Linked DNA regions of Homo sapiens: regions 1, 2 and 4 are each reported to be linked to region 3. Evidence: microRNA targets listed by miRTarBase, many of them from high-throughput screens and not tested one by one. Region 3 holds a microRNA gene; each other region holds the end of a gene's coding sequence.
The links. The annotated mature microRNA hsa-miR-603 reads CACACACUGCAAUUACUUUUGC and lies in region 3 at 2,834-2,855, opposite strand. An mRNA with a match to its seed (bases 2 to 7 or 8) in the 3' UTR can be bound and repressed. Matches are read on the target gene's strand: a 7mer-m8 pairs with bases 2 to 8, a 7mer-A1 pairs with bases 2 to 7 and ends in A, and an 8mer does both.

Region 1: miRTarBase lists IL6ST as a target of hsa-miR-603. Seed matches in the 3' UTR shown: 7mer-A1 at 1,673-1,679.
Region 2: miRTarBase lists RHOQ as a target of hsa-miR-603. Seed matches in the 3' UTR shown: 8mer at 2,248-2,255.
Region 4: the mRNA of CCDC160 is a reported target of hsa-miR-603. Seed matches in the 3' UTR shown: 7mer-m8 at 5,731-5,737 and 7mer-A1 at 5,706-5,712.

What each region holds. Positions count from the first base shown.
Region 1 is chr5:55,934,729-55,941,830 of GRCh38, reverse strand. It overlaps IL6ST (interleukin 6 cytokine family signal transducer), which reads left to right. Exons shown (of 17, transcript NM_002184.4): 17 at 12-6,736. The coding sequence ends at 749. Among named protein-coding and RNA genes, the nearest start is that of IL6ST, 57 kb to the left of the region's middle.
Region 2 is chr2:46,579,728-46,586,852 of GRCh38, forward strand. RHOQ (ras homolog family member Q) reads left to right here. Exons shown (of 5, transcript NM_012249.4): 5 at 1,201-4,961. The coding sequence ends at 1,356. PIGF (phosphatidylinositol glycan anchor biosynthesis class F) reads right to left here. Exons shown (of 6, transcript NM_002643.4): 6 at 1,210-1,864. The coding sequence ends at 1,751. It overlaps RHOQ-AS1 (RHOQ antisense RNA 1), which reads right to left and starts at 511. Exons shown (of 2, transcript NR_104182.1): 1 at 308-511. RefSeq lists a silencer at 6,260-6,443.
Region 3 is chr10:24,271,475-24,278,599 of GRCh38, reverse strand. It overlaps MIR603 (microRNA 603), which reads right to left and starts at 2,915; the gene lies at 2,819-2,915. All of the region lies in intron 2 of KIAA1217, which reads right to left.
Region 4 is chrX:134,244,616-134,251,740 of GRCh38, reverse strand. CCDC160 (coiled-coil domain containing 160) reads right to left here. Exons shown (of 3, transcript NM_001353453.3): 3 at 4,899-6,964. The coding sequence starts at 6,940. The coding sequence ends at 5,963. Among named protein-coding and RNA genes, the nearest start is that of CCDC160, 11 kb to the right of the region's middle. RefSeq lists a silencer at 4,254-4,453.

The sequences.
Region 1 (7,102 bases), not on the chromosome of region 3:
CTCTTCCTTAGCACAATTTTAATTCAAAAGATCAAATGTATTCAGATGGCAATTTCACTGATGTAAGTGTTGTGGAAATAGAAGCAAATGACAAAAAGCCTTTTCCAGAAGATCTGAAATCATTGGACCTGTTCAAAAAGGAAAAAATTAATACTGAAGGACACAGCAGTGGTATTGGGGGGTCTTCATGCATGTCATCTTCTAGGCCAAGCATTTCTAGCAGTGATGAAAATGAATCTTCACAAAACACTTCGAGCACTGTCCAGTATTCTACCGTGGTACACAGTGGCTACAGACACCAAGTTCCGTCAGTCCAAGTCTTCTCAAGATCCGAGTCTACCCAGCCCTTGTTAGATTCAGAGGAGCGGCCAGAAGATCTACAATTAGTAGATCATGTAGATGGCGGTGATGGTATTTTGCCCAGGCAACAGTACTTCAAACAGAACTGCAGTCAGCATGAATCCAGTCCAGATATTTCACATTTTGAAAGGTCAAAGCAAGTTTCATCAGTCAATGAGGAAGATTTTGTTAGACTTAAACAGCAGATTTCAGATCATATTTCACAATCCTGTGGATCTGGGCAAATGAAAATGTTTCAGGAAGTTTCTGCAGCAGATGCTTTTGGTCCAGGTACTGAGGGACAAGTAGAAAGATTTGAAACAGTTGGCATGGAGGCTGCGACTGATGAAGGCATGCCTAAAAGTTACTTACCACAGACTGTACGGCAAGGCGGCTACATGCCTCAGTGAAGGACTAGTAGTTCCTGCTACAACTTCAGCAGTACCTATAAAGTAAAGCTAAAATGATTTTATCTGTGAATTCAGATTTTAAAAAGTCTTCACTCTCTGAAGATGATCATTTGCCCTTAAGGACAAAAATGAACTGAAGTTTCACATGAGCTATTTCCATTCCAGAATATCTGGGATTCTACTTTAAGCACTACATAAACTGACTTTATCCTCAGACTAGCTGAATGATTTTGTGCTGTTTCAGGATGTTTGCACTGAAGAAAAACAGAAAGCTTATCTGAAATTTATAAAACTTTTTGTTTTGCTACATAGAAAACAGAAGGTATTTGAATAATAAGCAGTGATATGCTTAGTGAGCACAGCTATACTGATTTTGATTAGAATAGTCATCAGAGTGGCTTAGGGACAGTTAATATAAAAGAGGAGCAAGGTGTAGACCATCATCTACTTCTGCTAAAATAACTTAAAAAGAGGTCCATAGGCCATAACTACATGAGCCCAGCTTTTGTAATCTGACAAAAAAATGAGGAGCAGCTTCGTGTATATCAGTGTACACGGTATTCCTTAGGTCCCTTCCATTGGTAGTGATGCTGCGAGTTATTACTGGAGAAAAGGAATTCTAGAGCTTTAACTTGGCAGATTAAAAGTACTCATTTTTTATTCATCAATAATTAGTAATCTCACTAGTTTTCAAAAATTTGCATATTATTGACAACCTCTTTGAAGATGCATTTCACAAACTCAACAGAGTGCCATGATAAGAGCTAGGGATCCCCCAAACTATCTCAAGCATCTAAAAAATTGCCATTTTTAAAGGCTTAAATTGTAGTAGTAAAGGGGAAAACAGGAAGTAGTAGTAAAGGGGAAAAAAAACCAATAAAGCATCTAAAAAATTGGCATGTTAAAAGGCTTAAATTGCTAATGTGTGTATATATATATATATATATACACACACATATCATTGACTTTTCTTAAGACTTCAGAGTACTGGGTAGATGAACACTTTATACAGTATATATCTTCAGCTTAAATTTGTTTTGAGTATTTTTTTTATTTTTAAATAAGTAGGCAAAGATTTAAATTTTTTTATTTTTAGTAAATGTTTGAGGCACACTAAGACAACTTGGGCAATATTTGCCAAAACAAAACAGAACCCCAAAAAATGTACATCTTGTTCTTAGCAAATATCATTATTGTAGAGACACTTAATAAAGAGATGGTATTTTAATGTCTGCAGTTCTGAGGTAGGGTGGAACTTAGTTCTACATTGTGATTTAGGAATTTTTAAAACCTTTTTTCTTCAAGGGAGAAGTGACCCAGGCCTCGAGTTTAGTGCTAAAGCCGCTAGTGTACTTATGCTGTCCCCTAACCACCACGTGCGATATGGAAGCAGATGCTAAATATAGGGGTTTTCTTAGAAAGTAAGAGGAAATTAGCAAGCGTTATTAGTGATTGACTACTGCTATCAAGTGAATTCAAAGGAAACAGGTTTTTATGCCATATTTAAGTTACAGAAACCAGGCATGCTTAGAATAGTTTCTAGAGGTTATTGGAGAATAGAAAGCTAAGAAAACTTGGTATACATTTACAATGGAAATATAATTACACTTTTTACTCTCAGAATATTGTTCACATTAGACTTCCTGTTTATCTTTTATATTCTTGCATTTATATAATGCCTCATCCTTTCAAAGTTCTTTCACATATTATATGATCTTCTTTATGAAAAAAATAGATGTTTCATTCTGATATATTCAGTTTCCCACTTTAGGCAAAAGTAGATTAATAGAATGACGAATTCAAAGTAGATGAGGAAAATCAGGCACAGAGAAGTAAAGGTAGGGATAGACCCAAATTTACACAACAAGATAATGACATCTCCAGCTTTTAAGTTGATCATCAAAGGCTGGGCTGGATTTGTCTTGCTGTATGTGTCAGGAAATTTATACCTATTACATTTTCCATTTTCTCAAAATTTAAGTCACATGACTAATATTTAGCTGCAACTTTCCTCATAACAAATAGTGTCATGAAGAATGTTGTAGTGTGAAGTTTGTACATTTCAGGGTCAGATATACAATATGAACTCTTAATCTACAGGAATGAGAATGGAGGATCATTGAAGGCCATGATATAAACAAATTTGCATGTTGAAGCCTGTATAAAACATGGTACAGTGAGTGAATATACCCCCATCCCCAAGAACACTTTATACATATTAAATGGATATATGATTACTGTGCAAAAATTCATTCTGGAAATGAACATATATTTGAGCACTAATATGTAATGTACACCTGCCCTAAGGAGAAAATAAATTATAAAACTTTTTACATTCAAAATTACTTTCCCAAGCATGTCTTAGAATAATCTATGTGTTGATGCATGTAAATTGTACTTTAGGTAGGCAAAGAAATCTGGTTATTTATGTAAAAACTAGTCTAATAAAGTTAGTTAGTGGCTTTATCACTTTAAATCTTTAGTGTCCAAAAGTGGTGTTTAAAGTAATAGCACATCAGAAAACCTTGTCTGGACAAAACTAGTTCACTCACTGCTTCTGCACCTGCAGTTGCTCCCTTTAGGGTTATAAAATAATGACCCAAATGTTACATGTGTTGATATTATAACTTGTCAGTTACTGATGTCTGTGGTATCCTACCCTCATCTCTGAAAGGGATAATACTGAATAATTATTAGAAAACTATAAAACTTCACACTTTGTACCATTAAAACCTAAAATTTTAATCTTGTCCTTTTTTACTATGGATCAGTCGGCACTCGGGAACAGCAGCAAGGAAAAAAAGCAAATTTCATTCACATGTTCTGTGTTCATACCTCTTCTCTACCTAATTGTTCATTTAAATTTCAGCCTTATTCCTTGATAAGGGATTTTACCACATGAAGTCATCCAGTGACCCTAGCTCTTATTGTGAAGTTAGTGGAGTATACTTAGAAATGTTACAACTTTAAAATGTTACAAAACATTCATTAAAGCTCATATTTAAAGTAGAGCATCTAGTTTGAGAAATAGAAATCAATTATTAAAGATGTCTTTTTTCTACCCATTTAACTAGTTAAAACCATGACATGTAAATGTAGAAGTAGAATAATCATAGAATTCCCTAAAATATTTCTGTTTACTAACATATATTGACCAAGTACATCAAGCAGGAGAGATCTTCCTTCATTCTGTTATAGTCCACATCATTCTAATTTTGCTCAGTTGTTATTAAGAGCATATTCCTAAACCATACACTTTTGTTTCAATAAAGTTTTATTTTGTTGAGATGAATAAAATAACAAAGTTATAAGCTGCATAAGACAAAAGTTCAATTGTTCAAAAAAAATTTACTGGGATAGCTTTCTATTACAGGTATTGTTAGATTATATTGTGCTGATAAGATTACTTTCTAAAAAATTTGTACTTTTCTGTAAATTAAAAGAATATGGAGTCATAAAATGGCAAGTGTTTTAGGATTAGCCTAAAATTGGACATTGTCATTGATTTCAAAGAAGGTATGAACTAGCAGTCTTACAGCCTAATTCTTCTTTGGACTGGTCCTTGGCAGCAGTTCCTTTTCAGACTCGATAAACAGAATTCAGATGATGTAAGTCAAAACAAAACTTTACAAAGCCAAGCGTATTATCTTTTGCATTAACCTATTTTTTTCCATCATACATGCTACTAGTATGTGCATTAGCATGATATTCTCATATACATTGCATTAAAAATTAAAAGGTGGCAGCTCAGGGTGAGCTCTTCTGTTGCTCATTTGTTCCTAAATTTTTAAGGGCTTTTTCTCAGTCAATAGTTTGTACAAACTGGTTAGTTTAACTTCATTACCCATTTCATTAAAGTTGATGGGTCGTGTGATGAGATGCATTTAAGGCCGATAGTGATAGATGTTTTTTTTATTTCTTGAACACAGGCTTTGTCTGAATGATGTTCTTTTATCTCTTGAACACAAGCTTTGAATGATAACTACAGGTTTTAAGTGCTGTTACATTAATACCATAATGTGATGTGTTAGAAACAAAGGGATATTTCAAAGGTAGATATTTGAAAATTCTCTAGTCTCAATATGTATGTGTATTGAATATACTCTAAAAATAAATGTGCAATTTGCTAGTAGGACAATGCAGTGACTGACTAGCATTAGGTATGTTTCTTTTATATCCTAGCTATGTCCCACTTTCTTCTAAGTGCAATCCTTTCATGTTCACTTGCTGTTTTACCCCATCTACTCTAACTTCATTTGGAAGGCTTGTCTAGAGTATAGCATGTATTTTTACCTTTGCAGTGAATTGCATGTGCTAATTGTAACCACAGCTATTTTTATGTTGACATAACTCCAAATGTTATATTAAATGTTCTATTATATATTAGCTCTAATCCCTTAAGTAAATTTTAAGAAATAAATACTTGTTCAAATTTTTTTTCTGTATGTGGTTACTATCATCTGACTATGCATATTTGTAACAGCATTTATCATTAGTGGTGTTAGCTAAATAAGCATCTTAGTGTAAATGAGATGCTTCGTGTGGGTTTTGTGACATTTTAAATGACATAATGGAATGTGATTTAAAAGAAAACCAGTACACTATCTTGGTCTTAATAACATAGAATGGAGATGGCAAATTTATCCACTAGTTTTCCAGATTTACTATTTAATAGCTGAGGTCTGAAATCGTAGCATCCTCCCTCCTAGTGGACATTAAAAAAAAAAAAAAAAAAAAAAACCTACTTGGTTGTCAAGAGCCCAAGTATGGAGGTGCTGCGCCATCTTGTGGCCTGTCTGTGCCCACCCTGCACTCTGCTGGAGTCTCCATCCTTGTTGCAGTGAGACTTGAAGTTCAAGATTGATACATGGCATCCTCCTGCTACTTCTTGAGGTTACTAAGTAGTATATGAAACTAATCAGTCAGCAAGTCCACCTGGAAGGAAAAGAAAATCTCAACTATTAATGTGCCTTCACATTGTGATTTTGTCTAAAAAAATGTAGTGAGTCAAAAAACCCACAAGCCAGCCAACAGTAACTCCTTCACATATATACCAGAGTTTATAGAAATAACATGTCAGCTTTGGGCTATGTGCTCCTTTGTTTAAAATCTTCTATTTGGTTATGGCTTGTATAGGCTCAAGCCTGATTTCTTTAAGGTGTGGTGGCTCATCTTATCCTAATGTGTATGATAGATACAGTCCATCCTGCTTTGGAAAAGATTATGTAACTCCTTGAGAGCATACTCTTTCTCTAGCCCAAAGGCAGTGAGAGAGTTTTCTTGTTCAGGATTGCTTAACTTTCCATTTAAGCTTTTTCTTTTTAAATTAATACAAACTTCTACACTTTCAAAATACGAAATATATTACAACTGCGTATAGGCTCTTCCATACTTAAGTCCAGTGCTTGGGCAAGTTAATGGAGTGAAAGACTACAAGCAAAGAGGAACTGAGGTAGAAAAAGAAGAATGTGTGAAAGCAGCAGGAAGCTCAGCCAACTCGAAAGCAGGGTGAACAGCTTGAGTCCTGTTGCTGCTGATCGGGGTTGGCTCTTGGACAACTTAGTAAGATCATGGAAAGGCTGCTTGGGTTCTCCATAGAAAAGTTCTGTCTCCATCAAGGGAGGAAAATGTACCTTTCAACTCAAAATTCAATATTTGTTTTTAAATATAGCTATTTTCCCCAACCGCTAAAGATTTTCAACAGATACGAAGCCAGAGCTTAGTTTTAGAAACCTGTGGACATTCAAACCTGATTCTTTATTCCCTGTGACTATGGTTATGTCATTTTACATGTCAAAAAAGTGTATCTAGAATTGTCATTTCTTATTTTTGAGCTTTTTTTAGTGAGAATTATCCCCTCACTTAAATGGCTTTTTATTTAAACATCTGTGCATTCTGTATGAAATTGTAGTCTTTCTGGGATAACATGGTGAGCTATATGGTGGTAATCCACACACACAAAAATAAAAGCCAAAAAAAAACCAAAACCCTCAGGTAAAGTATTTCTCTTTCTTCAACTGTCTCATTAGCCCTGGCTGTGGATGGTCTTTCTGAGACAGGCTAGCCAGAGTAATTCAACGGCCACAAGTGGTTTCTCCCCCAGAGTGCTGGTTCAAACTCTGAATGAGACCAGCCTGTTGATTAGAAATCTAATACCTCAGTCCAGGCCTACTTTCCTAGAACAATCTTCACTTAGTAACAGGTCCAAGACACAACTATTAAGTATACATCTGGGTCCCTTCCCCGTAGGAAAAGGTTTTCCCTGCAGTCTTGCCTGTAGTCAGAAGCAGCCTGTTGACTAATGATAGCTTTTAAATGAATTTATAGAAAATTCTTGGAAATAGGCTCTATAA
Region 2 (7,125 bases), not on the chromosome of region 3:
ATCCCAGCTAGTCAGGAATCTGAGGCAGAACCGCTTGAACCCAGAAGGCAGAGGTTGTGATGAGCCAAGATCGAACCATAGTACTCCAGCCTGGGCAACAAGAGTGAAACTGTCTCAAAAAAAAAAAAAAGCCCTGAAGTCGTACTTGACCTTGCTCTTTCTCCCATACCACACATCTAGCCTTCGGCACAACATACCTTCAGAACATATCCAGAATCCAGACACTTTTTTCTAACTCTTCCCTCTATCACCTGGTTCAGACCTCCTCCATCTCTGGCCTGCTTTACTGGAATAGCTTCCAACTCACCTTTCTGCTTCTGTCTATGCCCCATGGTCATCTGTTCTCAACACAGCAGCCAGAGTAAGTCTTAAAAATGTAAGCGCAATCATGTCACTGCTCTGCTCAGAATCCTCCAGTGGGTCCCCAGCTCAGACTAAACGCCAAAGTCCGCACAGTGGCCTACAAGCCTCTGTTCCCTCTCTGCCTTACTCATTGTTCCCCAGGCCTCCTGGTCTCCTTTGTTGTTCCCTCAAAGTTCTACCTGAGAACCTTTGTACTTTTGTTGTTCCCTCTGCCTGGAATGTTCTTCCCTATGGACATGATTCATTCTTTCACTCTTTTCAGGTCTCTGCTCAAATACCACATCCTCAGTGTGATCTTGTTCCTTGACTGCTCCAGGCATGCTCCTGCATCAGGATCTATCTGCCTGGAGCTCTTCCCCTAGGTATCCCTCACTGCTCAAACTTCCCCATTGAGAAGCCTCCCCGGACCCCCACTACCATTGTCCTCAGCACTCCCCGCCTCCCTCACTCTGCTTTTTCCCCACAGCATTTGCAACCATCTGCTCTGTATTCCCTCCCCTGTGCCTCTTACCCAGCAGATGTCAGCACATGTGGACGCCACACAGCAGGGACTCTGCTCTTTCGTTCAGTTCACTGACATATCCCCAGGACCTAAACAGTGCTTGACATATAGTAGATACCCAGTAAATATGTGGTGAGTGAAATAATTTTTCATAGAAAGTCTGGAAGGACATATACTAGTATTTTAAAATCCCCTCTGGGGTTATGAACATGGATGATGAATGTATTCTTTTTGCATAGCTGTATTTTATAATTTTCTTTATAATGATGTGTTTATGTCATGCCAATTGTATAAACATGATCTTATATATTTGTGATTTTTTTTCTCCCTCCCAGATAGGAGCATGCTGCTATGTGGAATGTTCAGCTTTAACCCAGAAGGGATTGAAGACTGTTTTTGATGAGGCTATCATAGCCATTTTAACTCCAAAGAAACACACTGTAAAAAAAAGAATAGGATCAAGATGTATAAACTGTTGTTTAATTACGTGAGAAACATCTTCAGTGGCCAAGGAAACTGTCCATTTCTCTCAGAAAGCAAATGAAATGCTACAGCTATACCCAGACCTTTTATAGGTAATGAAGCAGTTCAAAACTTGAAAGAAAACAAAACCTGTCCTCAGAATTCTATAAAGTGTATTAAGAATGTTCCTTAAAGGTTTAAGAAGCAGTAAGCAGCATCTGAAGCCACAATCTATTATAAATACTTTATTTCAACTAGAAGGTACAATCTCTCAGGGGTTTCATAGTTTAAAAAGCTACAATCACATCATGTTGTAACTACGTAAAAAACAGAGCTGTAAATGGAACTGCTTGGCTTTGACCATACACATTTCTGCCCAGCCCTTACAGAATCTGCACAAAGAAATATCTCCCTTTGCTCCAGTTAATTGTTCTTGTATGTAAGTTGCTTTCTATTCCAGTATATCCAGAGTGGTGAAATAACAAGGCCAGCCACGTAGCCAAAGGTCGCTCCAAGCGTACAGGAGATGGGCCATACCTGAGGAGAGAATGTATGAGATCAAAAAAGAACAAATGTTTTATTATTACTTGAGCACAAGTGTAACCTAAATATTTCTATATTAAAGCTTAATGTGCTTTCTTAAAGAATGCCAAAAGTGTAATAAGGTCATAACTGCATTTATCATGAACACTAAAAATGTACACATTTTAGTTAATGTGCATTAAACTGTAACAAGGCTTCTGGCAATTGTAGATTTAGTTTGACGCTCCCCAAAGTGCATGAGACACATGCTAAAATTACAAATTAAAATTTTGGGTCAGACTTTGCCATAATGATAGACTCAATTTAGCTCTCTGAACTAGTTGGTAATTTTTTTTTTTTAATTCCCACTTTGGCTGTGTACATCAAATGAAATGAGAAGTGTGTATGCTGACCAAACCACAAGAAACTTTCTTTAAGTTGTGTTAAAGAGGAAAGACCTAGAATCCAAGCGTGTTACATGAAAATTGTAACAGAGCAGCTGCTTCCACCTTTCAGATATAGATGTTGGAACCACAGCAGAAGTTATAGAGCGACAACTTATATACACACCTAGAATGTAAGTTAAACAAAATACCGGCTTCCAGAGACCCCTTTTCTCCAGCCATATTACATCAGGCTAGAAGTAATTAATGTTGATTTATTTCATCTACAAGCAGTTGGTCCCTAAGTGAAAGGCTCTGCTTGAAAAAAAAAAGAAAAAAAAGTTGGAGGAAAATTTTCATGTTCTTCTGTGAAGCTTATTTGGTACACTGGAGCCATTTCTAATCTTTCTCTGGGGGGAACAGGCCACAGAACTGTGTTAGAGGTGAACCATCTTAATTACTAGTTCTATTACCTAATTCAGCTTCCTTGTTTGGTCTGCTGTGGATCTGCCTTATTGCATATGCCATGCATCAGATAATGGATGCATCAGATAATGGTGTTAGACAAAGCTTCATTGTGAACAACCTAATGCATTTTAGAGAAACAATCTCATCACATTTTTTCTAGCCTTTCCTACATTTAAACTTGCTGTTGCCCAAATTATAATTTTTTAAATGTCTTTGGTGGGCTTCTGTTAATTCACATGACTTGAGCTTATAGCTATGTCTACTGCACAGATTGGGTAATGGAACACTAAACTTTTATACTTGAAAATGACAGCCTTAAATGCTCATATCAGTCACAAATCTAGGATGTACTGTCTTGTTGTATGTGAGCTTTGTAGAGATTTTTAAAAATATAAGCATCACCTTCCCATTGAAGAGTGGAGAGAGTCTACTGGATGACTGGCCAGGAACTTTCTCTCTGAATCGGACATTTGGATGTCTTCTTTCTTCCAAGAAATGGTGGTTCACATTAAAGTATCATGGCCTTATGTATGCTCAAATGGAATCTTATGTAACTTTCTTATTTAATTTTGGTCTGCTTATTTTTAGATAAAATTGAAAGGAATTGTATAAATCAATTAACATATTAGCTGAGTTGTCCAACACATGGTATAAACGAATTACAACAGTAAACTATTACACATTTCCAACTTGCCTTTGGGGATTTATGAGGATTTTTTTTGGTGGGGGGAGGGGGCTCCAATTCATATCTCTGAAACCCTTCACACTTGGTTTACTAATTCAAAGTTAGAAGTCTAGAATTTGCCCTGCCCTAACAGAAACAGATTAGGAATTTGTCTACACAAACTGGTGTCACCTGTTTCTTGACTGGGATTTGGTTTCCTCATTATAAATATGGGAGGTAGAACAGAGATCTCCAACGTCTCTCCCATTTATCACAGTAATTTTCTTATTCACAGTAATCATTGTTGGATGTTACCTTTTCAGCTTCACATTCTCAAGATGGTAAAAATCATGTATATAGATTATCAGAACTCTAAGCAAAGATGACTGTCACATCTGAAGCTGAGGTGCCTTAGGTACTCTACTGACCTTGATGGGTTTGGAGTTCCCCATTGCTTATCAAGAGCTTTTTAATTGCTTTGGTTCTTTAGTTTTTCTTTTTGCAAAAATCCTTCCTGTCACTTTAACTAAAAACCAAAGATTTGTTTTCTATTGATAAGCAGACTAGAGAAAAACTGCCTTATTTTCAGAAGCATGTCTTCATTCAAAGCTTAGGCTTCAATAGAAATTCAGACTAATCACTGAAATGACTATTTCAAACTAGTGAAATATCTGGGAAATAAACTGCTTCAAAAATATTTTACTGACATGAATTTTGCTAGTGAATACAAATACACTGCCTCAAATAAGGCCATGTATGAATGAACTTACAAGATATTTGAGTTAATCAGTGTTTGCATATAGAGAATTAGTTCTAAAGTTCTTAAAAATAAATTTAGGGGCTCCCTGAAATTTTATTTAATACTTTGCTAACTTACACTCTTGTTTTATCTCCACAGGTACATTTTAGGTTAGCTCATGGTGAATTCTATTTACAATAAGTGGAGCTTGGATTAATGGGTTTTGTTATGAATTATCTTAGTGACTTTAGACACTGTTTCCATTTGATTTTTAACTATTTAAAATACCAAATTAAATACCAGTTTGTTGGTTGTTACTTTTAAATGATTGTTACTTTAACAGTGTCCCTTCTTAACACATGGGGTTACAAATAAAATACTATGCATAGTTTACTATCTACGTAAAGCACTGAACTTTTTACCTTAGTAGTTTTTATTTATTACCCTATGTAAACATTTAGGATAATACTCTTTCCTCTATTTATGCTGAGAGTCTACTAATCATTGGCAAAGTATGAGTCCCTATACTCTGTTAAAAAAAGCTCACTGTTAAAGTATAGGGAGAATAGTAATCCCTCATGAATCCCAGCTAGATTCCAATTTGGGTTACTAAATTGTATTTTAATCATTTTGTAATTTCAGTATGGCTCTTTGTTCTCAAACACATACATACCACCACGCACATTCTTTTAAACAGCTGCCACACCTCACCTCCAACAGAATGCCAAAAATGAAATGTTAAAAAATTTTGTCTAATGAAGGGTTACGGCTTGGAACACTTGGTTATTCATGTTATGTAAATCAAGAAGTGCATGCCATCAGCAAATTAAAATGTGGACTGGCTTTGAAGACTGTTAATGATGGGTCAGGCTTTGTACTTACAAGAGTACCTCCTTGGCTTTCCTGAAATAAGCATTTCTTAATCGTAACCCTGTCATTTTTTTAAAAGAGAATTTCTTTAAGGGCCGTTTTCATGATTTTTGAAGATCAAAATAGATTATCAAAATAGGGAACAGCAAAAGGAGGGAGGCTGCCCACTAAGAACTATTCCTCAAGCAAGTTTCCTACTGATTTTCTTATAATTATTCTAAAAATTTTTAAACTACACTATGGCAACAGAATTCATTTGTAAATCCTAGCTTAATCAGGTATTTTCATAATTAGATCCTAAGGTTTTCCTTTAAAACTATTTCCTTATCTCACATACAGACATGTTTCTATTCAACGTTCTTCATGCCACAAATAGGATTTTTTAAAAAAGTGATATCTATTAAATACATAATTCAGCTGCACTGCTATAAAGATTTCTCCAAATTATGGTAATCTGAGATGGCTTTATATAATTATTTTGTTTAAAGAAAATAGGAAACTTAGAACAAAGACATTCATGTAAAGGAAGTCATTCACAAGTGTTTGCCACCAAAATGACAAGGGCCCAAGCACTGGAGGCCAGCCTGGGCAAGATAGTGAGAGTTTTTTATAAATTTACATTTTTTTAGCCAGTAAATAGAAGAAACAACCTATGGTGTATAATCAAATATATTACAACTCAAGTGGGTAAAATTATTAAAATTACCAGGAAGAAGAAAAATCTAATTAAAAAATAAGTGGTACATCAGATGTTAAGTGACCTTAGCCAGCTCATTTTAACATCTGAGCCTCAGTTTCCCCTACAGAACAGGGACAGAAGTACCTACTATACTTAAAATGCAGGGCTGAAGTAATCTCTTAAAATTTGTCATGAAAGCTATAAAGTACCACGTACCAGTATTCTGTATATTACATGTTTTAACTTGAAAAAATTAAACTTACACAAACAGTATTTCTTTGGTCACTGACACTACTATGTAATAAGTAGAACCGGCAGTTTAGAACGAATAGTTCATGAGTAATATACTGTGTGGTAGGAAGTGGTAGGAACTATTCTTTACCCTTGCAAAGCAATCATCTTTTTTTTTTTTGAGACGGACTCTCGCTCTGTCGCCCAGGCTGGAGTGCAGTGGCACAATCTCGGCTCACTGCAAGCTCCGCCTCCCAGGTTCACGCTATTCTCCTGCCTCAGCCTCCCGAGTAGCTGGGACTACAGGTGCCTGCCACCACGTCCAGCTAATTTTTTTGTATTTTTAGTAGAGACAGGGTTTCAATGTGTTAGCCAGGATGGTCTCGATCTCCTGACCTCGTGATCCGTCTGCCTCAGCCTCCCAAAGTGCTGGGATTACAGGCGTGAGCCACCGCGCCCAGCCATAAAGCAATCATCTTTAATACATGCTGTTCTTCATGTGAAATGTCTGTTACAAGAGCAAATTCAGGAGCTGTACAACATACTGGCATTACGTTAACCATCTGTATCCTTACCTCAGAAGGTTACCCTGCTGCTAGCTGTCATTTTTCATAAATTCGAAGAAACAAAATTTTAAGTACAGATAGTGGTTTTAAACTAATCATTGGTAGGCATTTGTGTTAATTTTTAAAGGCTCATATGAATGACTCCATTCATTCGAAACTATTTGTGGAGCCCCTACCTTAACCCAGCAGTTAAAGGTGTAAACTAAGATTAAATTATTTAATTTTGGATACATTTTAGTATAAATTCTTAAAAATGTGTTCCAATATAATAAATATTACTTATAATTTTGGGGGAGATTTACACTGTCACAGATAACATGGAGAAACTGACCTATCTGCAAATCAGAACACCTACAGACATTTAGAACAACTCACAACCATTAGGATTACTGTCTCTCTCGAGATAAAAAGGAAGATAAAATCCAGTTCTCAATCTCTCATGAGCTACTTTTCAATATGTTTGTTTTGTTAATTGTGCTTATCACAAATTTGCATTTGCATGACTGAGAGAGTTCATCTTTCAAAGCCTGCTGACCTACTGGTTATAAATAATCATTTATATTCTCCTCCAAAATTGGTCTTGAACAGTATGTTTTTCCAGATATTCCTAAAGTAAATGTTATTGTCTGATACAGGAATACATGCACAAATGAATCTACTCATTGGGATACATTTC
Region 3 (7,125 bases):
TTGGTATCCAAATATTCACTGAATAGACAAATAAGACTCAATACAAGGGACTTGCCACTTGCCTAGTGCCCACATTGTGTCTGCCACTTGCCACATGCTTTCGATAGATTATCCCTTATCCACACAACTCTGCAAGCTCTGTATTATTTTTGGACACTTCACAGATGAAGGTCAGTGGGATTAAACAGCTTTCTCTAAGCCACACAGCTCATGAGTAAATTCAAAACCGGGTCTGTGTAATTTCAAAATTCCTGCTTATCTCACTCCAAACACTGCCTCTCCCTGGTCTGCACACAATGGTCTGAGTTCTAGGTTTCCGGCCTCACAGAGTAACTCTCATCCATCTTCTACCTGACAGTCTTTCAGAAATGAAGACTTTCCAGAAGCCAGTGGTCAGTCTGACCCTTTACACCGCCACTGTGGCTGTAATGTGCTTCTCCACAGTGTTTTGGCCTGCTCCAAAGTGGCTCATGCAGACCCTGCCTCTCCTCGCTACTTTCACACACAGCCTAAGAGGTGGCGTCATCACACTCCACAGCATCTCACCCATGACGGCGTCCTCGAGCTGCACAGACTGTGCGTCCGTCCTCAAAGGACAAAAGGCATAGGTCCATAGAGCTGCTGTCCAAAAGCATCACAAAGGGAAGCCAGCAAGCACTGCTTTCTATCACAGGGGAGAAGTTCCCAGCTGATTGCTGGCAGTGCTGCCACTGTCTTTTGCCCGTCAGAGGGTGAGTCAGAGAGAGGACTCAGGAAAACCTACTGTATTAGGCCATTCTCATGCTGCGATTAGGACAAACCTGAGATTGGGTAATTTATAAAGGAAAGAGGTTTAATTGACTCACAGTTCTGCAGGGCTGGGGAGGCCTCAGGAAACTTACAATCATGGTTGAAGGGGAAGCAAACACGTCCTTCTTCACATGGCAGCAGCAAGGAGAAGAATGAGTGCCCAGTGAAAGGGAAAGCCCCTTATAAAACCATCAGCTTTCATGAGAACTCACTCACTATTATGAAAATAGCATGGGGAAAACCGCCCCCATGATTCAATTACCTCCCACCAGGTTCCTCCCACAACATGTGGGGATTATGGGAACTACAATTCAAGATGAGAAGTGGGTGGGTACACAGCCAAACTATATCATCTGCATAGCAGGTGGCCTTGTCTCCCCATTCCTGGGCTCCCCCAGGGCAACCTGTCCCCCATCCCACTCACGAGGCTTCCCTCTAGGAAGCCGCTAAGAAGAGACCTGCCACCCACCTGCTTGCTCCACTTTGAGTGGGAACCACACCAGGGTCAACCTCAGAAACATCTGAAAAGTTGGAAGTAAATTCAGCAGTCTAGCAAAAGCAGTCTTCTGCAACTGAGGAATCCAGGTTGAGCGCTGCCATGACCTGTATTTGAAAAGCTGCCACCTTCCAATCAGGCCAGAGTTAAAGAGCAATTTGAAAAGAGCAAGAATTTCCAAGCTATAAAACTAGGGACATGATTCTAAGAGGATAAAACATTTTAAGATTGGTTTAAAAGCTTTTGAAAAATTTAAGGCCAGGCATGGCAGCTCACATCTATAATCATAGAGCTTTGGGAGGCCGAGGTGGGAGGATTGCTTGAGGTCAGGAATTTGACACCAGCTTGGGCAACACGGGGAGACCCCATCTCTACGATTTTTATTTTTTTTTTAATTAGCTGGACTTGGCTGGGTGTGGTGGCTCATGCCTGTAATCCCAGCACTTTGAGAGGCTGAGGCGGACGGATCACAAGGTCAGGAGTTCCAGACCAGCCTGGCCAATATGGTGAAACCCTGTCTCTACTAAAAATACAAAAATTAGCTGGGCGTAGTAGCACATGCTTGTAGTCCCAGCTACTCAGGAGGCTGAGGCAGGACAATCACTTGAACTTGAGAGACAGAGGTTGCTGTGAGCCGAGATCGCGCCACTGCACTACGGCCTCGGTGACAAAGTGAGATTCCATCTCAGAAAAAAAAAAAAAAAAAGCTGGACTTGATGGCATGTGCCAGTAGTTCCAGCTACTAGGGAGGCTGAGGTGGGAGCATCACTTGAGTCCAGGACTTCAAGGTTACAGGGGCTATGATTGTGCCACTGCACTCCAGCCTGGGTGACAAAGCGAGACCCTGTCTCTTAAAAATTTTTTGTTTTTAAATTCAAACCCAGTTTTCCTCAGGACTCTTATTAACAGCTATCTAAGGAATAGGAAGGGATGCCCTCAAACCGGGCAGAACGAGATGGAATTCTAAGTCATTTTGTCTTTTGCATTTCTGAAAAGACTTTCATTTTTCAAAGGACATCAAAACTGAAATGCCTTATAAATCCCTTTGTGTTTCTGCGTTCTGTTCAATGGCATCAATAAGATGGATGATCAGCAAATGGCATCAAACTCCATTTGTATTCTTATTAGAATAATAACACGTAAAATGATATGAAATGAAACAGCAGATTCCAATGACCTTGTAGCCCAATTCAATTACTATTTCACTAAATAACGACAAAACTGACAGTCCTCAAGCTGCTGAATTTATGAATTAAATTCAACTTCTCTTCTACATTCTGAGCAGGACTGAGTGGAAAAAGAAATGGTCAGTGAGGACTGGGGAGGAGTTTCCTTCTCTTTGCTATTTAATGCAACATCGCCAAGCCCACTGGAGGGAGGGGTATGGAAAGACAGTTTAAAAAGGAATATCAGGACCAGAAGGGAGAACTGATGGCCAGGGCCCTTGCTATAGTTTGCTCCTGCAGATGAGACACTGCTTTGGAAAATTTTATCATTAACCAAACTGCACTGATGCTAAAAGTCAATAAAGCCAAGTATTAAGTTGGAGCAAAAGTAATTGCAGTGTGTGCCATTACTTTTAAATGGGAAGCACTGCAATTACTTTTGCACCAAACCAACAGCATCAATCTTGCCTGCATCTTAAGCAAAGGCTTAATGAGAAAAAAAACATACTTGAGACTACTAAAGCATTATACAGTCAGTCCTCATTACTAGCAGATTCTGTATTTGTAAATATGCCCATCACCTAAAATCTGTTTGTGACCCTCAAATTAATACTCCCAAATGTTTGCAGTCATCATAGACATGGCAGGACAGTGGACAACTGGAGTTTCCCAACAAGCACGTTCCCAGGTGGCGTCTAACTAAACAACACTCTGCTTTTTTGTTTCAGTTTTCATACTGTAAGGAAGCACCCTTTCCACAGTCTTTTTAGTGCCACAAGTTTCGCATTTTTGTGTCTTTTTGTGTCTGTGTGTGCACCTGCATGCGTGTATGTGTGTGTGAGTGACTTCACTATTTAAAATGGTCCAAGCCAGGTGCAGTGGCTCATGCCTGAAATCCCAGCACTTTGGGAGGCTAAGGCAAGAGAATTGCTTTGTGACAGGAGTTCAAGACCAGCCTGGAATATACTAGTCATGTTCATTGGGGAATTAAGACCTCAAAAACATAGCCAGACCCTGCCTCTACAAAAAAATAAAATTAAAAAATTAGCTGGGCATGGTGGCGTGTGCCTGTAGTCCCAGATATTTGGGAGGCTGAGGTGGGAAGATCACTTGAGCCCAGGAGTTTGAGGCTCCAGTGAGTTGTGATTGTGTCACTGCACTCCAGCCTGGTCAAGAGGGCGAGACCCGGCATCTACAAATTTTTTCTTTAAATAAGAAAAGAGAATAAATTTTAAAAATAAGAAATAAAATGAAATGGCCCTTAAGTATGGTGTGGAAGTACTATTTGGCATTCCTAGGCTCAAGAAGGCTGTGATACACCTTACACAAAAAATAAGTGCATTAGATAAGCTTAGTTCAATGCTAATGAATCAATAATATATATTTTAAAAGGTGTCTTCAAACAAAAACACAGGTAAAATAAGGATTTTTGTTGATTGGTTGATAAAAAGGTAACCAAAGACTCACAGGAACCTAACCCTGTATTTCCCCTAGGAAATTCAGTATTAACTAATAAATTCAGGACTCACTAATGCAGTATTTAGGGCAAGTTTATAGAACATCAATACTGTGAATAACAAGAATTGACTGTATTTTCAAACTGCAGTAAAAATGCCATAAGTATGTAAAATAGGACTTGTAGGAAGACAACAAAGTATATTTAGATGTAGCAGGTTCATCTTTTTTACTTTTTTTGCAGATGTGAGAACTTGACAATTTCTAACCACTGGACTTAGAATGGAGAACACAGCCAATCTGGGTGACAGAGCAATATTCCGTCTCAAAAAAAAAAAAAAATTAGCTGGACTTGGTGGCATGCACCAGTAGTTCTAGTTACTTGGGAGGCTGAGGTGGCTGGTCATGAACTCCTGACCTCAAGTCTCCCAAAATGCTGGGATTATAGGTGTGAGCCATTGTGCCTGGCCAGCAATGGCAATATTTTCTTACTACCAACTCTCAGAAAACATACATTATTCTCCATAATTATCCAATAAATTTGGACCCATCTGAAAATAAGCATCAGTCACTTTTCAGTTTATACATGTATGCTATTAGTCATTACTCTGGTAATATGTGAAATGTAAATCATTGCCTTATTACTTACTGGATATGGGCTGTTTTTTGGTTGAGGTATGCGTCTAATTTATTGGTACTACATTAGAAAATGCCCTACACCAAATATCTGCTCTGATTGGACTAAGATCCTACATTTTTATATTTGGGAATATTGCTCAACTTGAGAAAGGCAAGATGTCCCAATCCCTGCAACAGTAACTTGGACTTTTTTTTTTTTTTTGAGACAGAGTCTTGTTCTGTCGCCCAGGCTAGAACACAGTGGCACGATCTCGGCTCACTGCAACCTCCATCTCGTGTGCTCAGGCGATTCTCCAGCCTCAAGCCTCCCGAGTAGCTGTGATTACAGGCATGTGCCACCACACCCGGCTGATATTTGCATTTTTAGTAGAGACAGGGTTTCACTATGTTGGCCAGGCTGGTCTCGAACTCCTGACCTCAGGTGATCCACCCACCTTGGCCTCCCAAAGTGCTTGGATTACAGGCATGAGCCATGGCGTCCAGCCAATAACTTGGACTTCTAATTAAAGATGTGACGTGGGCCAGTTATGCATAGAGGTAAGCCAAGGGCCTCTTATGTGACACCCTCACTGGACTGGGACAGATTCTGCCATGTCATTTACCTTGAGTACTCCAAAAGGAAGAACATAAAAATAATAATGTAATGAAAGTAGCAAGGGTATGTTTAACTTCAAAGAAGATCATTAATACTTAGCCTGGACTGTCTGAGAATATGACTAGAGAAAAGGGAATGAAGGAAAGAGGAGTACTTAATCTATGCTTATTGTTCAAATGCTCTTCTCTGCTCACACTTTGCAAATGTTAATAAGAGTCTGATCTCTTGATAGTAACCATAGGGAAATTTATCAGCCTCTAAACATAATTTCTCCCTTTTCTCTATCCTGAGTCTCCAATGAGTTGGGCAAAATGCAGAGGCATCTCATTCATTCAGAAAATGCCATCTTTTCTCTCTCTCATATATGTAGTGTTGCTAAAATTAACTAAAAAATTAACTAGTTTTAATTTTCTTCTTCTTAAAGGCTTCTGTCCATAACTGTCCAAGGCGCAGAAGGGCACAGACTTTTACGCAATGAGAGTCCCCTGACATTCTGCTGTCTAAGACTTCATTCTCAGAGTGCAAGGACCAGAGAAAGAACTGGGGTGGATGCTATTCCACGTTTGCTCTTTTCATTAAGACTTTTCAAAGAAGACTTTATTCCAACATGCATTTAAAAGAAAAAGAAATGAAGAATTCTTCCTTCAGGCGAATAACTCATAAGGGGAAAAAAACCCTTGAATATGATTTATTTCACAGGGATCATTGAAGAGCACGTGAAAACCGATCTCTGTTGAAATTCCGAAATACTTGTTAATGCCACCTTGAAAGAAGTAAAGAATTTCGAAGTCAGTTATTAAATAAATCCATGACTATTTGAACAGCTATCTCAATTTGGCTGGAATGTGGCTAGAATTCGAGTTATGTACATTGAGTTTGAGTAGAATGTGGCTTTGACAATGAGTCAACCTTAGTATTTTCTTCCCAACAATGATGGAGCGGCTTGGTGAATGCAGAGCTCCCTAGAGTAGCTTTTAGAACTCGTACTCTCCTTTCAACAACAGATTGCTCAGTTGAGAAGTTTTAGAACTGAATGAAAACTCAGGCATCATTTAGTTATTTGTGCAACTTGAATATTTTTTCCAATAAGATAACCAAGGCCAAAAAAATTAAGTGGAAAAAATGTCACACATCGAGTTAGAAAGTAGAACTAATCTAGATTCAAGCACTCCTAGCTACTAGTCCAGAGTTCTTATTACTAACCTGGACCTGCAGTGAGCACCACTGACATCCCTAACTGAGTAGTGACTTCCCTAGTAATCTCCCTTATCTAATTTTACTGCATAAACACATTGCTATCTGTTACAGGAATGGGATCTTAATCATGTAGAGAGAAGGGAAAACAAGGCATGAGGAACCTTTGAACCTTATTGCTAGGCTTCAAGTAGAGAGATGTCAGGTTGTCTCCCGAGTCCACCCTTCCCACCCAATTTCCTACTCTCACGAGCATCCCATGGGCTTTGGTCTCTCTGTGCCTCTTGTAACCAACCTAAAATGGAGATGCATAAAAGTGGCCTTTTATGCCACTTTTAAGTGGGCTATCTTATCTTGTATAAGGCTAGGTCATACTTTTGAATAAAACAATTTTTATTTGAAGAGGCTGGGACCAAGAAATATATATAGCTAGAATGGGCTGCGTACAGGGGGAAAGTTTATTAAAAGGCCTGCGTGTGCACAGTTTCATTATTCTCACTCTTTTTTTTTTTTAAGACAGGGTCTCACTCTGTCACCCAGGCTGAAGTGCAGTGGCACAATCTCGACACACTGCAGCCTCAACCTCCCCAGGCTCAGGTGATCCTTCCACCTCAGCCTCTCCAGTACCTGGGACTACAAGTACATGCCACCACGCCTGGCTAATTATTATAATTTTTTGCAGAGATGGGGTTTTGCCACGTTGCCCACGCTGGTCTTGAACTCCTGGGTTCATGTGATCTACCCACCTCGGCCTCCCAAAGTGCTAGAATTACAGGTGTGAGCCACCGCAC
Region 4 (7,125 bases), not on the chromosome of region 3:
CATAGAACCAGGAATAAACCCAGTCTCCTGGGAAATGACAACCTGCACCCAGTGAAACATAGCAATCATCAGAAGGTTGAGTGTGATCAAAGGTGTCATTCATAGAGAGAGGTAGTGGGGTGGAGGGACAGAGAGACTCTGTGAACAGTAGCTCTGACCACTAAACAGGGGAGACATCACCTTGGTACTCAGTATGGAAAGGAGGGTACACCTACAATACATAGATAACTATAGCTTCAGTGTCTCATGAGTACAAAGGACAAGACAATGACTTATTTTTATCTGAGCAGCTGTAGTAGTGGGTCCCCAGCTGCACAGCTCCTTGTGCCAAGGGGAAATAAAAAATGCTATAATAGCTTCTCTTGTCTCCATTCCCTCTTCCTAGATGAGTTTTTTTTCCCTCTGGAGCACTAGAGCAGGGCTTTCTTCCCCCTTCTGGTACTCTGCCTGCTAGAGCCAGGGGCCAATCGAACACAGACCTGATTGGAGGGGGGGTGGGTAGGCTCTAACCCAAGAAATGCCCTCTACAGGATCCTTCCTGAGGCCAGAAGAGCCATCACAATAGATTTGTTACTTTGCCTTAAGGCTTCATATACTAATAAAACCAACATGTCTTCTCTGCAACTTGTTCCACCTTCCCAAATATATACACACATCATTGATACACATATTACGAATTAGTTCATCATATTCTCTCCAGGGAACACAATAGGTATAAAAAGCTTGGTGAGAGTAATAGCTGGGAGGAGACAGATAGATTTGGTCAATTTCCCATTGTCGATTAGCAATAATGATAATAACAAGGGTGACATTTATTGACCGTATGTGATCTCATCTTACCTCTCAAAAACACTAGTTATGTACCCTGTCTTACAAGATGAGGAAACTGAGCTACAGAGAATTACACAAGTTGCCCAAGGTCACACAGCTAGCAAGTGGATAACCAAAGTTTGTGCACTTAACCTCTATGCTCTATGCTTCTTTGGAGAGAGGAGCAACTGTGATGTTTCTCTTTCATACATCTCCTTGAAACCAGCCTACTCACGGCAGACTTGGCTTATGATAAAAATCTCCTAGGTCTTTTGTTTCCAAAACAAAAATGATAGCATCCAAAGGTAGAGTAGCATCAGCAAAATGGTTTTCTGCAGTTTGTTATCTGGAACCTGGTCTTTATGTCATGAGAACATCATTCTCCAGTCTATCTGCAAATGACCAAAAACGTTGGAATTCACAGTAGTTTTCAGGGTAGAACCTCAAACGAGACATTAAAAATCAGCAACATGGCTGGGCGAGGTGGCTCACGCCTGTAATCCCAGCGCTTTGGGAGGCCGAGGCGGGTGGATCACCTGAGGAGGTCGGGAGTTTGAGATCAGCCTGTCCAATGTGGCAAAACCCTGTCTCTACTAAAAATACAAAACTTAGCAGGGTGTGGTGGCAGGCGCCTGTAATCCCAGCTACTTGGGAGGATGAAGCAGGAAATCACTTGAACCTGGGAGGTGGAGGTTGCAGTGAGCCGGTATCGTGCCACTGCACTCAAGCCTGGGCAACAGAGCAAGACTCCGTCTCAACAAACAAACAAAAAAATCAGCAACACATAACATACCAGTGCTCTAATTCATTGCTGCTGAGTCCTCTTTGAAGCCAAATAAACCTTCCATATTCACATTCCAGAAATGTCCCTGCCTCCTACTCCCATGCTTTGTCTGGAAAAATCCTTCATATCCTTCAAGGCCCAGCTCAAATGTCACCTCCTTTACAAAGTGTTTCCCAGTCCCACAGGCAGAATTAATTGATCCTCCTTTATGCTCCCACAGCACTTTATATTAGCATTGGTGGTATAGCTCTTACCACATTGTTTTAATTAATTGCATAAGTAAGCTCCTTGAGGTCAGAGACTTGTCTTATTCATAAACCCTTTGATTTCCATATCCCCAGCCTAGCACATACCTTATTTCATCAAATCTAAAACTCCATCAATTGTAAGATACACCATTATTTCATTAATTACTAAGAAAAACAAAACACTGACAATTATTCTATGACATACCATCAATTTGAAGATGAGTCCCAAATTCAGGAAATGTCAAAAATTTTAAAAATGTGTTTTAGAAGGAATGAACTGTGGCAATAAGTGCTCACCAAATGTTTATAGAACTGAATTATTAAACCAAGGTGGAACAGATATTTCCAGAGAACTGTGACAGCCCATGCTTCTTAATAAGTAAGAGATTAGAAGTTGGTGATGAATGGTGTGTGACTGCATTGCTGATTTCAAATATTTTACCCAACAGATTAGTTAAAGGGATGAGTGGCCTGATGTGCCATCCCTGTTAAAAAAAAAAACACAAAAAAAAAACAAAAAAAACCACATAAACACCTGCAAGGGCCAAGCCTGCTGGCTCATGTGTGTAATCCCACTCCTTCAGAAGGCTAAGGCACAGGATTGCTTGAGGCCAGGAGTTTGAAGCCAGCCTGGACAGCATAGTGAGACCCTGTCTCTAAAAATATAAAAAATTAGCCAGGCATGGAAGCAAGCCCCTGTAGTCTCAATTACTCAGGAGGCTGAGGTGGGAGGATTGCTTGAGTCCAGGAGGTCCAGGCTGCAGTGAGCTATTTGTGCCACTGCACTCCAGCCTGGGCAACAAGGCCAGCCCGGGCAACAAGGCCAGCCCCCACCTCTAAAACAACAACAACAACAAAGACACCTCCAGATCTCCCATTTAATATACTAGAAAGTAAAGTGATGATATATTGATTCTAGTTCCTTAAACAAGTTCAACCCACTGCTGTGCTCATCTGCCCATGAAGAGGAATAATAGCACAGCTTTCTCCCAGTTTATTCCTGCCCTGCTTTTATTTTGATGCAATCCCTTCCTAATTCCAAACTGTTGGGTCTGTGACCTTAGCTCCCCTTTCTCCTTGGCCCTCTGAAGTTAGTGATTGTATATATTACCTCCCTGGTTAGTGTCTGGACCTGTGCTTTCCATAGGATCTTTCCACAGGGCAGGCCTTGCTGGGTTTTAGTATTTCAGGCTGTCTCACCAAGAATCTGTATTCTAGTTCCAACCTAGAAATAGAAACCCCACCCCCTGCCCTAGACCTAGTCTAAGCCATACACTTAATGTCTCTGGCCCTCCTTCCACCACTCTTTCCCTGCCCCCAAGCACACATACACACTCATGCAAGATAAACCAAATTGTCACTGAAAACCTTAAATGTATGGTTGGTTCATAGAAATACTCCTGGAATAAAAGTTCCTCTTTGAAAACAGAATTATAGGCCGGGCATGGTGGCTCATGCCTGTAATCCCAGCACTTTGGGAGGCTGAGGTGAGCGGATCCCTTGAGCTCAGGAGTTTGAGACCAGCCTGGCCAACATGGCAAAATCCCATCTCTAATAAAAATACAAAAAAAATTAGCTGCCTGTAATCCCAGCTACTCAGGAAGCTGAGGCATGAGAATTGCTTGAACCTGGGAGGCAGAGGGTACAGTGAGCTGAGATCGTGCCACTGTACTCCAGCCTTGGCAACAGAGCTAGGCTCCGTCTCAAAAAAAAAAAAAAAAAAAGAAAATGGAATTAAAATGGAATTATACTAGCCAGACATGGTGGCATATGCCAGCAGCCCAAGCTACTGGGGAGGATCACTTGAGCCCAGCAGTTTGAGTCCAGCCTGGGCAACACAGCAAGAACCTGTCCCCCTCTCTCTCTTAAAAAAAAATTATATTGAAAGGATTGAGCCTAGTAGCTTAATTAATACATTGTAAAATTTTTAAACATGTAAGCAGCTCTGCACATTAGCATTCAGGGAATGAGCGTCTTATGAGGCAAGTACAAAGGGGCAATCTTATAAGGGGGTGATGAAGAAGAAAGTAAAATAGGGCAACGAGTTCCTAGTTTGCTTTCGTACCTAGACCCTTGGTGGGAAGCCAGTGACCACTAAAAACCTGAAAGTCATCTCCCCCTTTAAGGCAGGCTGCCAGTGCCTGGGTTAGGTTTATCAGGACTAAGTCACAGAGCTCCAAAGATTAGCATCTTCCAATTTACGCCAGTCCTCCCAGGCAAGGCAAGACTTGTTCAGCCTCCAGGTCAGCTTAGTCAGTATCCATTCAGTGCCTTCCCCAACCTTAATGAATAAAGAGGAAACAAGAGAAAGGTAGAGAAACAACCTCTATTGATTTATTATTCATAGTATTTGGAGATGTTCAAACTATATAAAGGACCCTGCTTATATTTTCTTTCAAAGGGAGTCTGCAAAGTAGGTCCCCCAAAGTATTAGAATTGAATGCATCCAGGCCGGGTGCGGTGGCTCACGCCTGTAACCCCAGTACTTTGGGAGGTAGAGATGGGTGGATCACGAGATCAGGAGTTCGAGACCAGCCTGGCCGAGATGGTGAAACCCTGTCTCTACTAAATAAATAAATAAATAAATAAATACATAAATACAAAAAATAGCCGGGTGTAGTGGCAGGCGCCCGTAATCCCAGCTACTCGGGAGGCTAAGGCAGGAGAATCGCTTGAACCCGGAAGGCGGAGGTTGCAGTGAGCCGAGATCGCGCCACTGCACTCTAGCCTGAGCTACAGAGCAAGACTCTGTCTCAAACAAAACAAAACAAAAAAAGAATTGAATGCATCCAATGCCATAGGAGTTTTACTTCCTTACAGGTAGAGTTACACTTGCAAATAAAATCATTGAGGTGAAATCACAGAACATTAGAACTGAACAGAATCTCGATGATAGATCTGTTGCCTTGTTTTATAGATGAGGACTTTTAGGGGAAGAAAGTTAACTAGTTACTGGCAGAGCAGGTACTAGAAGCCAAATGTCCTGACTCCCAGTCTAGGGATTTTCCCAACAGGGAAGACACCTAAACCCTTAAAACAATTGTATCTCATCCTCATAGTGTGCAATTACATTTGGTTTATTAGGCTTTAAAACACCATGCAAATAGAGCTCCTATTACAGGATATCTTGATGACTGATACAAACAAATGGTAAAGAGTCAACTGGCCCATCACTTCCACCCAAGGATTGAGGCAGTACATTTTTACCATGTATAAGTGTAAAATAAATTGTCATCACCTGGAGCCCTTACAGGGCTGGATTACTGTAAAAATCAAGCCAGCTCACTAAAAGTTTATCCAGATGACATCCAACTTCACCACAGTCCCCGCCAACTTGTGATGTAAGCCGGGGAGGAAGCTTCGAAATTTTCCCCTGGTCGAGTTTTGGAAGAACTGTGTAAACAATGCCCCTTACTGGTCAACATAAGAAAACACAAAAGCCACTGCTGGCAAGAGCAGGGCTCTAGCAAAAGGTCACAGCAATGTCTCTAAGTCGTCTTGTAGTCTATGGGAACCGTGGCCAGGTCAAAGGAGAAAGCCTGGGGAAAACAGCAGGGGGAAGAAAAAAACTACATTTTTTTCCAGAGATGTTTATATGTACCGAATTAAAGTTAGACCCCCAAAGTAAGCAGATACATTTTTGGTATCCCATTGAGTTTGAACAGGCAGTTATAAGACCCACAGGCATATGTTAGGCTTATACACATAAACAAGATTTTTATTGTTAACATCAATGAACACAGATGGAAAAATATTCACGTGCCAAAGACATATTTGCTTACGAGATCACAAAATTGCTGATTTGTATTCATAAATGATTTGGTGAATCATTATGTGTTTTTGAGTGAATATATGTGTGTGTGTACACACACACACACACACACACACACACACTCTGATATGAGATTTCCAAAGCTTCGTTTCCATTTGTATTCCTGCAATAACTTCATCAGAAAGAGAAAGCAGAAGCTTGGAAACATGTATATGTTTTATAGATACTGTGATTTACTGAAAATGAAAATAACATCCTATTACATATATTTTAAGTAATACGCAAAGAAAATACAATAAACACTGATTTGGCTCAATGACTTGCCTACTGGAAGGATTTTTTTAAGTTTTAAAAAAAATCCCCAGTAAAGTGGTCAAGGATACTTGATGATGTTACCATTGAAGAAGCATAGTATTTTCTAAGCAACTCCAAGGCTCTGTTATTTCTTGCTTGTAGGGTCTTCTCAGTTCTCAGTTCATTCTTGATGACACTGAGCTCTCCGCGGATCTTTGCCATTTCTAATTCATAATATGATTTCATTTCTTCTTTTAGGAGCACATTTCCAACCTCGGTTTGATGCTTTAACTTCCTAACAGCTTCTTTTAAATTTCTGTTCTCTAGGTTCAATTTGTGGATGACTTCTTTGGCTTGCTGGAGCTGTTCACTTAAGTTTTTTACATTTGTTGCTTTTTCAGACAGGTCATTTCTTAAAGCTTGAAGTTCATAGTCACTTTTTGAAGCATCCGTCTCTGTTTCTTGAAAATTTAGGGGTTTTGTGAATATTTCTTTTTTGTAGTGCAAAAGTTCTTTTTCAGCATTTTCAAATTCCTCTTCTATTTTTCTGTATTTCATATTAAGTTCTTCCAGTTCTTCATTCAAAAGATTCAGGCAAAGTTTTGGAGACATTCTTTCCATAAATTTCTTTCTTATGTCTTGTCTTAGTAGAGCTGGTAAGTTATCTGTACTGCAGGTAGAGTTATCTTCTGTGCTGTTAAAGCTTTCTTCTGTTGTAACATCCACATTAGATGATTCATAGGATGCAGAATTTGTGTCTGTTTCATTCTTTGAAATGTTTCTCTTGTTCTCTCTTAAATTTTGTTCTTGTTCTATTTCATTTAGTTGGAAAATATATTTTTTCCTCTTAAATTTACTTTCTTCCTGAAACTTTCTACTGGACAAATTATAAATTTCTTCCATTCCCTTGCTGCTATCTGCAGTCGTTTGTTCAGAAGAAGATTCAGGCTCAGAAGTCTCTTCTAGAACATCTTGTGCACTAAAAAAAGGAGTAAACATATTCTCCTTCCAGTGTTTTCTTCTAGCATCCATTTCTCCAGGCACCTCTTCCAATATCTGAAAAACAAAATTTAAAACCAAGGCAGGCACATTATTTACACTAGTAGCTAATATAGTAGAAAGAAATAAAAATGCTGGCTCACGGGTGAAGAATCTAAACATTTGAGGGCTGGCTCTCTCTCTAACTCACTGAATGGCTTGGGCCTCAGTCCCCTCAT